3 linked regions of the Homo sapiens genome follow. The protein of the gene in region 1 interacts with the protein of each later gene in a pairwise test. Each region holds a gene or a part of one and is shown in the gene's direction. Other genes may lie near its edges.

Region 1 (3,751 bases):
TGTTTAGCTTCTTTCAGGTTTTTCAGTCTTTCTGCTTCCATGGGCTCCGCTTTCTCTCCGAGCATTTCTCATGCCCATACATGTTTATTCTGGAATTGTCATCTTTGGAACAGTGATTGCAACAGCACTTATGGGATTGACAGAGAAACTGATTTTTTCCCTGTAAGTTGCATAGTCTTCTTAATTGTAATACTTAAGCCACAAAATGTTAAATACTTGTTCACTGGGAAAATGTAATAAAAATATAACAAAATTTTTTAGATATTAAAATTAAAAAATATTTTAAAGAATTTGTTATATCATATAGGTAATATGATATTACTAAAAGTTTAGAAGGACCAAAAAGTCTGACAAATTGTATTACTCTTATGAAACAACTATTGAAGTTATACATTCCCTTTCAATCTTGTTGATATGCATGTTTTTATATTAATTGTAATTATAGTGTACATACATTTTTGTTTCATCCTTTTTAAAAATTTTAAGTGATAACTGTTACTGGTGGAGGGTGTCCAGGTTCTTGGCGTTTTGAACAAAGAAGTGGACAAAACACACAAACAAAGCAAGTAAAGAATGAAGCAACAAAAGCAGAGAGTTACTGAAAATGAAAGTACACTCCACAGGGCGGGAGTGGCCTGAGCAGCCACTCAACGGCCCGATAGGGAATCTTCTTGGGTCCAAATAGCCCCTAGAGGTTTCCCATTGGCCAGTTGGTGTTCACTGCATGTAAATGAAGTGGTGGCCTGCAGTCAGTTTGATTGGTTGTAGAAAGCAACCAATCAGAGATACTTTCAATTTTCCATCCGCCATGCAGAAAAGCGGGGTTTGCAAAGGGAGTAGCCTCGGGTCCTTTTGCTACTTAGATGTGGAAAGTTGGGGTTTTCCTTTTGGTTTAGTTCTAGGAAGTCCGTGTGAATTGACCTGAGGTTGCCTGCCTCCAGACCCTACCTGCCTTAAAACAAGTGTTACAGATGCTATATTATTTTCATATTTATTATTTTTAAATCAATTTCATTATATATTCCCGAGTGAATTGTAGCATAATTTATATTTCTCCTTAATAGCAAGCTTTGAGAGTTTACATTGAAACTGTACTAGTGTGCATTTTGAGCAGATAAATTCAAGACTGTTTTGCATGTTGCTGTATCATCCTGTTTGTAATTGGATACATCTCTTATTTCATAGGAGAGATCCTGCATACAGTACATTCCCGCCAGAAGGTGTTTTCGTAAATACGCTTGGCCTTCTGATCCTGGTGTTCGGGGCCCTCATTTTTTGGATAGTCACCAGACCGCAATGGAAACGTCCTAAGGAGCCAAATTCTACCATTCTTCATCCAAATGGAGGCACTGAACAGGGAGCAAGAGGTTCCATGCCAGCCTACTCTGGCAACAACATGGACAAATCAGATTCAGAGTTAAACAGTGAAGTAGCAGCAAGGAAAAGAAACTTAGCTCTGGATGAGGCTGGGCAGAGATCTACCATGTAAAATGTTGTAGAGATAGAGCCATATAACGTCACGTTTCAAAACTAGCTCTACAGTTTTGCTTCTCCTATTAGCCATATGATAATTGGGCTATGTAGTATCAATATTTACTTTAATCACAAAGGATGGTTTCTTGAAATAATTTGTATTGATTGAGGCCTATGAACTGACCTGAATTGGAAAGGATGTGATTAATATAAATAATAGCAGATATAAATTGTGGTTATGTTACCTTTATCTTGTTGAGGACCACAACATTAGCACGGTGCCTTGTGCAGAATAGATACTCAATATGTGAATATGTGTCTACTAGTAGTTAATTGGATAAACTGGCAGCATCCCTGGCCTGTTGTCATGCAGTCATTTCCTGTTAATTCTGGGAGACAATGATTTCACAACTAGCGGGAAGCAGTCCTAAAAGTTTAAAATCCGATAAGGAATATCTGGGACAGGGTTTAGATCATGACTCTACACAGATACCATGATGAGAGTATATTAAAGAAATTTAGGAAAGCACCTGGTTCCTTTCTCCCCATGCCTGCCTTCTGCTCCCTCCCCAGCTGGTTTGGGCTCAAATTGTCCCTGGAGACTAGGGTTTATGTTAGGGTATTGATAGATTAGAGCAGGTGGTTGAAGAGATCTTCTCTGGTCAGACTTGGAAGAATTTCCAAAACTGAAGTTAGCCCCAAGACTTCCCTAGGGTTGATGTACTTTATGATCCAGATGCTAAACTTCTTAGAATGAAAATATGCTTCAACACTTAAGTAGCATACACTGCCCTACAAACCTCAGAGAGCACTTTTCCCCAAGTTCTTGTTTTTATTTTTGAAAGTACTCACACAGCACTTACTATGCTCCAAACACTCCTCTAAGCACTTTACACATATTAGCTCATTCAGTCCCCAGACAGACGGGATGAAGTAGGTATTGTTACTGTTCCCATTTTACAGGTGAGAGATTTGAAGCCTGGGGAGGCTAGTAACTCACCCCAAGGTCACACGGCTCATACATGGTGGGACTGAGACTCAGATGCAGGCAGTCTGGCACCTCAGTCTGGATTCTAACCATTTCACTAAGCTATTTTTGTCTTGTACTACTTTGACCCACCCCTGAATAAACCTCAATTGCTGGAGTGGGGTGTAGTTATTAAAGGGATGCTTTTTACCTTTTGCTGTTTGCTGTGGCAGATTCCCCAGATAACCAAGGAAAAGGGGCCACCCATACCTGGAAATAGGCCATAGGGCCCCTACTACTGCCAACAAGCCATGGCCTACCTTGACACTTGTTTGATCTTAAAATTGTGTCTTGGTAACAAAAGATTTGGACAGGCATATCTGTAGCTTTCAAGTTAATTAATTGCAATATTTTTTTCTTCAGGATTTTAGCTGCTGAACAACTTTCAGTTTGGAGCTAAAAGAGACCTGTCTCATGGTCTGCCCTTCCCTGGGGCAATAGCTAGGGTCTTTCCTGATTTTTATGGAATTTTAGGGGATATTTTGAGCTTTGGGTTCTCAGTAGTGAATTGAGACTTGGAGGTGACTTTTCATGTTTGGAGTATCATCTCTGTCTGGGATCTGGGCTGACAAATTAAAACCTAGAGTAGTGCTTATGCTGAAATGATACTTTTCATTTTTTGGTTGATTTTTTTGCCTTCCCTTCAATTTTAAACTGAAGCATTTTAATATGGGTAGAAACTCTACACCAAATACACTAAACATTTTGGTGCTTAGTGGATTTCTTTTTAGGTAACTGGTACTTACTTCCAAAGACTGAATACAAGCCACACTCCATCATATCCCTTAAACTTCATGAAAAACCATTCAAGATCCCCTTGCTGCAACACTGTTCTCTTCTTCTCTACTAAATTCTATTTCCAAAATTGGTAATAGAGCCAGAAGGATCCCCAGTACCCAGCCCTCTGCCTGGCACAAAGTGGTAGCACAATTAAATTCAGTATGGGTGGAGCATGGTACAGTCTTGGTGCCATAGAAGGAGTAGTTGCATAGTCACACATCATTTGATAAGTTGGATGTTCCATTACATAGAGGAACACAAAATTCCAGGGTTTTTGGAGGAAGGGATTAGATAGTGACTAAGCCGCCAGAATTGAGGTGGCCATTCCTTTTTGTATAGGCTAAGAAACAGGTTATCAGTGAAAAGTTAATTATGGCTTTGGCACTAGAATAGCACTGTTGCAAAGTATTTAAGCACCCCCCATCTCAGCCCTTTATTTTATCTTTCATGTGGGCTAATGTGAGGATAATC
Region 2 (3,751 bases), on another chromosome or scaffold:
TTGCTTCCCCAGACTAAGCAGTCAAGTTACAGTGTTTAACAGTTCAAAAATTTAATGAACTATAAGACACACTAAAAGATGTTTGGATTTTAGATCGTTATAATGTAGTATTCAGGCCTTTTTTAGGCCAAGGATGATCGCTTGGGATTATTTTGTTTTTTGCCAGCCTGGCGTGATGCTGTGCACACCGTCAGTTCTTAATAAACATTGACTTGCCAGATGAAACTTCTTCCTGGTCATTCTACCATATGGAGCTATAATACATTTTTCTGAGAGATAATGGCCCATCAGCCATACTGTTTTAGATGGGAGGGTAAGAAAGATTTGTATGTGAATGGCATTTCATAAGTGCTAGTCAAATTACTGAAGAGAAGTCTCTGAGTCTTTCAAACGCCAGCATCTTCTGACACACTGGGCATTAGCTGCATGCAGAAAACTAGTTAATTCAGGCACTAGGAGTAAAGCACATGATGAAATTAAAAGACCTGACGCCTATCTGTGAGGAGCTCCCCTGTTAGCAGGGGCAGTTGAAAACACGTATGTGCAAAATGATTCCAAATCTGAGCAGCAAAGAAACAGTGGCATAACCTTTTTTTTTTTTTTGGACAATTGAAACTGGAATTTAGGTGGTAAAAACAGCACTAGTGGAGCAGGGCACAATGACACACGCCTGTGATCCCAGCACTTTGGGAGACCAAGGCAGTGGATTGTTCAGGAGTTCACCATCCTGGGTGACATGGTGAGACATTGTCTCTACAAAAAAATATAAAAATTAGCCGGGCGTGGTGGCGTGAGCCTGTGGTCCCAACTACTCTCTGGAGCCTGAGGTGAGAAGATCACTTAAGCCTGGTAGGTCAAGGCTGCTCTCTATCCTGGGTGACAGAGTGAGAGCCTGTCTCAAAAAAAAAAAAAACACGAAACAAACCCCAGCACTACTTGGCAGGAGAGCTTGTGATTGGCAGAAAAGAGAAGGGAACGCTCTCACAGCTGGCGAGGACTTGGCTCCTGCCTATAGTCCACTTTCAGAGCAAAAGTAGAGCCACCAGGATGGGCGTTGGTGTTTCCCTCTACAGTGTGGGTAACAGGGCAGGCCCTGCGCTCAGTACCCACATTCCCAGCTCCACTGGACTTCCAGCTCTGTGATCACTGGACACACTTCCAGCTGTGTGATCTTGGACAAGTTATTCTACCTCTCTGGGCATTTTTTCATCTATAAAATGGGGAGGCCTGTGGACAGATTCCTTGAGCACAGGAGTTGGAGACCAGCCTGAGCAACATGGTGAAACCCTGTCTCTACCAAAAATACAAAAAAGAGAAAGAAAGAAAGAAAAAAGCTGGGCATGGTAGCATGCACCTATGGTCCCAGCTACTCAGAAGGCTGAGGTGGGAGAATTGTTTGAGTCCAGGAGGCTAAGGTTGCAGTGAGCTGAGATCGCGCCACTGCACTCCACCCTGGGTGACAGAGGGAAACCCTGTCTCAAAAAAAAAGAAAATGCAGAAGCACAGCCTCCTCTATCCTTAGTTAACTCTCAGTCTACTTGGAGAGGTAAACTATAGATAAAATAGCTAAAGGACACGAGCAAACATTTAACACTGCATTAAGGGGAAGCCATGGAAAGGAACATTTGGAACCAGCTAGGTTAGTGAGTAGTCAGAGAAAGCCTTTAGGAGACACCCAATGAGGTCTTGAAGGAATAGCTTTTCCTAAGAGGAGATCATGATACAGAGACAAGTATCGTTGGAATGAACGATACTTGTGGAGTGGAACTCATTTGGAGAGTGACAGATCTGAGGAAGTTCCTCTTCTGTGTGGACAGAGGCCACCCCAGGCCTTTGCTTTGCTTTTTCTTATCCATTAGGGTCCGCTGATTCTTTCACCAGCCCCTCCGGCTGTTCTGGCTTGGCCTTGGCCAAAAGACAGAGCAGTGAGACCCCAGGAACTGACTGATAAGCAAAGTTAATCAAGTGCCTGTGTTTCTTTCACAGGACTCTGACACCACCATACCAATGGACGAATCACTGCAGTTTAACTCCTCCCTCCAGAAAGTTCACAACGGCATGGATGACCTCATTTTAGATGGGCACAATATTTTAGATGGACTGAGGACCCAGAGACTGACCTTGAAGGTGGGGTCCCTGCTGGGGGACAGAGAGAAGGCCTCTTGTTTTAGCCTCATCCAACAGTTTAGTAACTGTGTTTATATTTTGATTACGTGTCCTCAAATTGTGATATTTTGATGACAAGACAGAGCCCTTGAGTTTGGGATCCTTTCTGTTGGAGTTGAGTTATTGTGAGCCTGAAAGTACCCAGTTCCTTTGCCAGTGCTTGAAACAAACCATGAAGTGGCCTCTCTTAGGATCCAGGTCTTTTCCCATTTACTGAACTTATCATGAAAGTGAGTGCTACTACGAGGGGTCCAATCACAGGCTGAGAAATTGTGTTACAGAATCTACTCTTGGAAGAATGAAGACGTGGCTGTCCTTTGGTACCTCGCTTTAAGGTGGCTTTCCCTTAGGACCCCTACTGTGGACTGCCTTATAACTAAAACCTTTTGTATTTTAGTAACTGAATCCCCACTGTGCAGTGTTAGGGCTGCCTGGTTGTTTGCAGTAGATTAGAGCTTTAGAAGCTTCTAGAGCTTCTAAAGCCCGTGCTGGTGATCCCAGCGACTCTTCACTCCCTAGCCTTAGGTATTCCTAGAAGCCCTGACCAGTTGGCACTGCTGAGACTCCAGCCCCTGGGAGTGGTTTACAGAAACATTACACAGACTCTGATGTCAGTCATGATGTTTCAGCCTCTGCCCTTTTCCTGTATCAACCCTGATGGATAATAGGGCGTGGGTTCTGTCTGTTATCAGGGTGTGGTCCCCTGTGAATGAAGCACTCCCAGCCACTGAGCTGTGAGAAACAGTCACTCGGAAGTGTGAGCTTTATCTTAGTTTTTGTTGGATCATGTTGAGTCTGTCAGCTCCACAGGACTTCAGTACGTTTCTGAACAGTCCCTGCCATCTCTACGGGGGAGAGGGTCAGGCAAGCTGCAAGTGACACTCACCTCCTGCTGACAGTTGCAGTGTCTCAGATGGCCTGGAAGGGTGGTCTCCAGCAGCCTGCTGGGCGCTCCCCTTTCATGAGAGCCACCTGCAGTGACCTGAACTGATACATGTTGATTAGTCTGCCCTTTCTTTAGAAAACTGCTACTCTCCTTTTCATATCTCAGAAAAACAGTAGAGGCCTTTTAGGACCAAACTCCATGTCACACTGATGAAGAGCCAGTGGGGGTTAGAGCGTCCTGTTAAGGCACATGCTAACTTCCCACTCAAGTCTGGCAGCGCTGGGGCATCAGCACACCTCTTGCCACCCACACTGATACCAGAGGGGAAGGCTGTGAGGTGGCTGGGGGTTGAGACTTGAGGTTTCTAACTTTCCTCTGCACACCTGTGGCTACCTGGTGTTTGTCTCTTGATTCCCTCCACCTGCCTCACACCCTGCCTCCGTCGGGATTTTCCACCTACACCATTCAAAAGGAACATAGGAGAGGGCATGAAGGGGCTAGGCTGAAGCACTCTGATGACTGGGGCCAATTTGTGGCTGAAAATGAATACATTTTTTGAAATTTATGGTCATTTTCAAGTGATTTAGAAGGTTGATCCTTAGCCTCATACAGTGATGAAATAATCTGTGTGTTCAGAGCCAAGCAGGACTTTAGCAAGAGTCTGATTGTATTGTCACTATCTCGGGGAAAAAAAAATAC
Region 3 (3,751 bases), on another chromosome or scaffold:
GTGCCAGACCACACGGACCCCTCTGCTAGGGGTTTGTAACCCCGGAGGGCTTGGCTATTTGGTGGGGTAGGGAGACGTCACCCTAATGAAGCAGTTCTCAAAGTGTGGTACCCTGGCTGTGGGAGGTGGTAATCCTAGTATCCCCTCAACGGGGTCTGTGAGGACAAAGCATTTTTATAACACTACTACTATTTTTTTGGTTTTTTTTTTTTCGTTTGAGACAGTCTTGCTGTCACCCAGGCTGGAGTGCAGTGGCATGATCTCGGCTCACTGCAAGCTCCGCCTCCCAGGTTCACGCCATTCTCCTGCCTCAGCCTCCCGAGTAGCTGGGACTACAGGTGCCCGCCACCATGCCTGGCTAATTTTTTGTATTTTTAGTAGAGACGGGGTTTCACTGTGTTAGCCAGGATGGTCTCGATCTCCTGACCTTGTGATCCGCCCGCCTCGGCCTCCCAAAGTGCTGTAATTACAGGTGTGAGCCACCGCGCCCGGCCTTTTTTTTTTTTTTTTTTTTTTTTTGAGACAGGGTCTCGCTCTTTCACCCAGTCTGGAGTGTAGTGGCACAATCACAGCTCACTGCAGCTTCAACCTCCCAGGTTCAAGGGATTCTCCCACCTCAGCCTCCTGAGTAACTGGGACTATAGGCACGTGCCACCACACCCAGATTTTTTTTTTTTTTGGCTTTTTTTAAAAAAGCCAAAAATAAATGAGAAAATTAGAGTTTCACTTTCTCATGAATGTGTGTTGGCATTTTCCAAAGGTTATGTGACATGTGATGCTCTCTCATGGATTTGATGGCTCATGGAATGTGTGCCTGTATGTTCTTGTATGTTAAGAATTTCTCAGTTTTGGCCGGGCACGATGGCTCATGCCTGTAATCCCAGCACTTTGGGAGGCTGAGGCACGGGGATCACTTGAGGTAAGGAGTTTGAGACCAACCTGGCCAATGTGGTGAGACCCCATCTCTACTAAAATATAAAAATTAGCTGGGTGTGATGGTGCACACCTGTAATCCCAGCTACTCGGGAGGCTGAGGCAGGAGAATCTCCTAAGTCCGGGAGGCAGAGGTTGCAGTGAGCCGAGATTGCACCACTGTACTCCATCCTGGGCGACAGCGAGACTCCATCTCAAAAAAAAAAAAAAAAGAAAGAAAAGAAAAGAAAAAGAATTTCTCAGTTTTAATATCTAATTTTGTAAATAGTGATAGCTATACTCACACAAACAAAAGCTCTTTTGGATCCTTGGTTGCATTTGAGTATAAAGGAGTTTTGGAACCAAAACATTTGAGAACTGCACCCCTAATGCATCAGAAGGAGCAGGAGCCTTTAATATGAACAACACACATGTAAATGTCACAGTGTACCTGCTTGCTTGCTTGCTTGCTTGTACTTCCTGTGACCGCAGCCCTGGGCCACCAGACCTAAGGCCCTGTTTTCTCTGGGGAAGCCCTTCTCATAGCCCAGGGCGGGGCTAGGATTGAAACCCAGCTGGTCTGGCTCCAGAGACCTGCCCTGGACTCTGTCCTGCTTCTAAAGACCTAGGGAGCACCCACTCTGTGCCTGAGGAGGCAGGTGGCACATCTACCCAGGTTGCATGGTTGGCTCTGGCCTATCATGTTTTAAATCTTTTTTTTTTTTTTTTTTGAAATGGAGTCTCACTCTGTTGCCCAGGCTGGAGTACAGTGGCGCAATCTTGGCTCACTGCAACCTCTGCCTCCTGGGTTCAAGCAATTCTCTGCCTCAGCCTCCCGAGTAGCTGGGATTACTGGCACTCGCAACCATACCCGGCTAATTTTTTGTATTTTTAGTAGAGACGGGGTTTCACCATATTGGCCAGGCTGGTCTTGAACTCCTGACCTCGTGATCCACCTGCCTTGGCCTCCCAAAGTGCTGGGATTACAGGCGTGAGCCACTGCGCCCGGCCCTATCACATTTTAATAACCAGGGATGGGACTGAACTTGAATTTTGACCTCAGAGCTCCTGCTTTCTAGCTCCTGCCCCATCATCACCATGCTTAGCAAACGTGTGAGTTTGAGAGGAAGATTTACAGCTCAGACCTAATTGCTGGCAAAGTTTAAGGAGAGGACAGGGAGCAGGCAGAAGTCTGAAAACCACGCCTGGGCCCAAGAATGTTTTCACAATGTGGCCTGGCTGCACAGGGAAGAACAGACAGCTTGAAGAAGTAGTGAGCTGCCCGTCTTTGAAGGTATTCAAGCAGTGGCTAGAGGGACACCTGTCTGTGGTCTTGCAGAATCCTGGCGTTGGGCAGTGACTGTACCACAGACCCTGAGGCCGCTCTGCTTTGCTTTCCTATGACATCAGACACCCTGATGCACGCCCACCTGTTAATGACCTTGCCCCATTTTCTCTTTCAGATTCTGCCCCCGTGGAGACTCCCAGAGGGAAGCCCCCACTCAACACCCGCTCCCAGGCTCCGCTTCTCCGATGGGTCCTTACACTCAGCTTTCTGGTGGCGACAGTTGCTGTAGGGCTTTATGCCATGTGAATGCAGGCATGCTGGCTCCCAGGGCCATGAACTTTGTCCGGTGGAAGGCCTTCTTTCTAGAGAGGGAATTCTCTTGGCTGGCTTCCTTACCGTGGGCACTGAAGGCTTTCAGGGCCTCCAGCCCTCTCACTGTGTCCCTCTCTCTGGAAAGGAGGAAGGAGCCTATGGCATCTTCCCCAACGAAAAGCACATCCAGGCAATGGCCTAAACTTCAGAGGGGGCGAAGGGATCAGCCCTGCCCTTCAGCATCCTCAGTTCCTGCAGCAGAGCCTGGAAGACACCCTAATGTGGCAGCTGTCTCAAACCTCCAAAAGCCCTGAGTTTCAAGTATCCTTGTTGACACGGCCATGACCACTTTCCCCGTGGGCCATGGCAATTTTTACACAAACCTGAAAAGATGTTGTGTCTTGTGTTTTTGTCTTATTTTTGTTGGAGCCACTCTGTTCCTGGCTCAGCCTCAAATGCAGTATTTTTGTTGTGTTCTGTTGTTTTTATAGCAGGGTTGGGGTGGTTTTTGAGCCATGCGTGGGTGGGGAGGGAGGTGTTTAACGGCACTGTGGCCTTGGTCTAACTTTTGTGTGAAATAATAAACAACATTGTCTGATAGTAGCTTGAAGTAGTTTTCATGGGCTTTGTTATTCTTGGGGAACTGACCTTTTCCTCCCTGGTTTCTTGCGTGCTCGGTAGGAGAAGTGGTGATAGGGGGTTGGCAGGAGCTGGTCTGTTTGAGAATACAGAAGGTGAGCTTTTCTTTTCTTTTTTTTTTTTTTTGAGATGGAGTCTCACTCTGTCACCCAGGCTGGAGTGCAGTGGCGTGATCTTGGTTCACTGCAAGCTCCACCTCCCAGGTTCAATCAATTCTCCTGCCTCAGCCTCCTGAGTAGCTGGGATTACAGAAGTTCATCACCATGCCCAGCTAATTTTTGTATTTTTAGTAGAGATGGGGTTTCCCCATGTTGGCCAGGCTGGTCTCGAACTCCCGACCTCAGCTGGTCCACCTGCCTCAGCTTCCCAAGGTGCTGGGATTACAGGCGTGAGCCACCGTGCCTGGCCCAGGAGGTGAGCTTTAAGTAGCTGGTGGGCGAATATTTGTGTTGAACCCTGCTTGATGCAATTCTCGACTTTATGGAAGATGGGGTTGCCCTGTTTGGTGGAAATGAGCAGATTCTGGGGCAAAATTTGTATTTTCTGTCCAGTGACTATTAGGGACTGGAGTGAAATTCTTAGGTTCAAATTCCTGCTACA

Evidence for each region.
Region 2: the proteins of CYBRD1 (region 1) and GOSR2 interact in binary tests that used the Homo sapiens proteins (3 or more experiments, as listed by UniProt).
Region 3: the proteins of CYBRD1 (region 1) and HMOX1 interact in binary tests that used the Homo sapiens proteins (3 or more experiments, as listed by UniProt).

The regions. Positions count from the first base shown.
Region 1 is NC_000002.12:171,553,339-171,557,089, forward strand, and holds part of CYBRD1 (plasma membrane ascorbate-dependent reductase CYBRD1), read left to right. Parts: intron 1-7; coding exon 8-162; intron 163-1,185; coding exon 1,186-1,489; 3' UTR 1,490-3,751. UniProt on the Homo sapiens protein: Plasma membrane reductase that uses cytoplasmic ascorbate as an electron donor to reduce extracellular Fe(3+) into Fe(2+).
Region 2 is NC_000017.11:46,933,043-46,936,793, forward strand, and holds part of GOSR2 (Golgi SNAP receptor complex member 2), read left to right. Parts: intron 1-1,986; coding exon 1,987-2,127; coding exon of another isoform or gene 2,128-2,238; exon of another isoform or gene 2,239-3,751. UniProt on the Homo sapiens protein: Involved in transport of proteins from the cis/medial-Golgi to the trans-Golgi network.
Region 3 is NC_000022.11:35,391,093-35,394,843, forward strand, and holds the end of HMOX1 (heme oxygenase 1), read left to right. Parts: intron 1-2,375; coding exon 2,376-2,506; 3' UTR 2,507-3,115; downstream 3,116-3,751.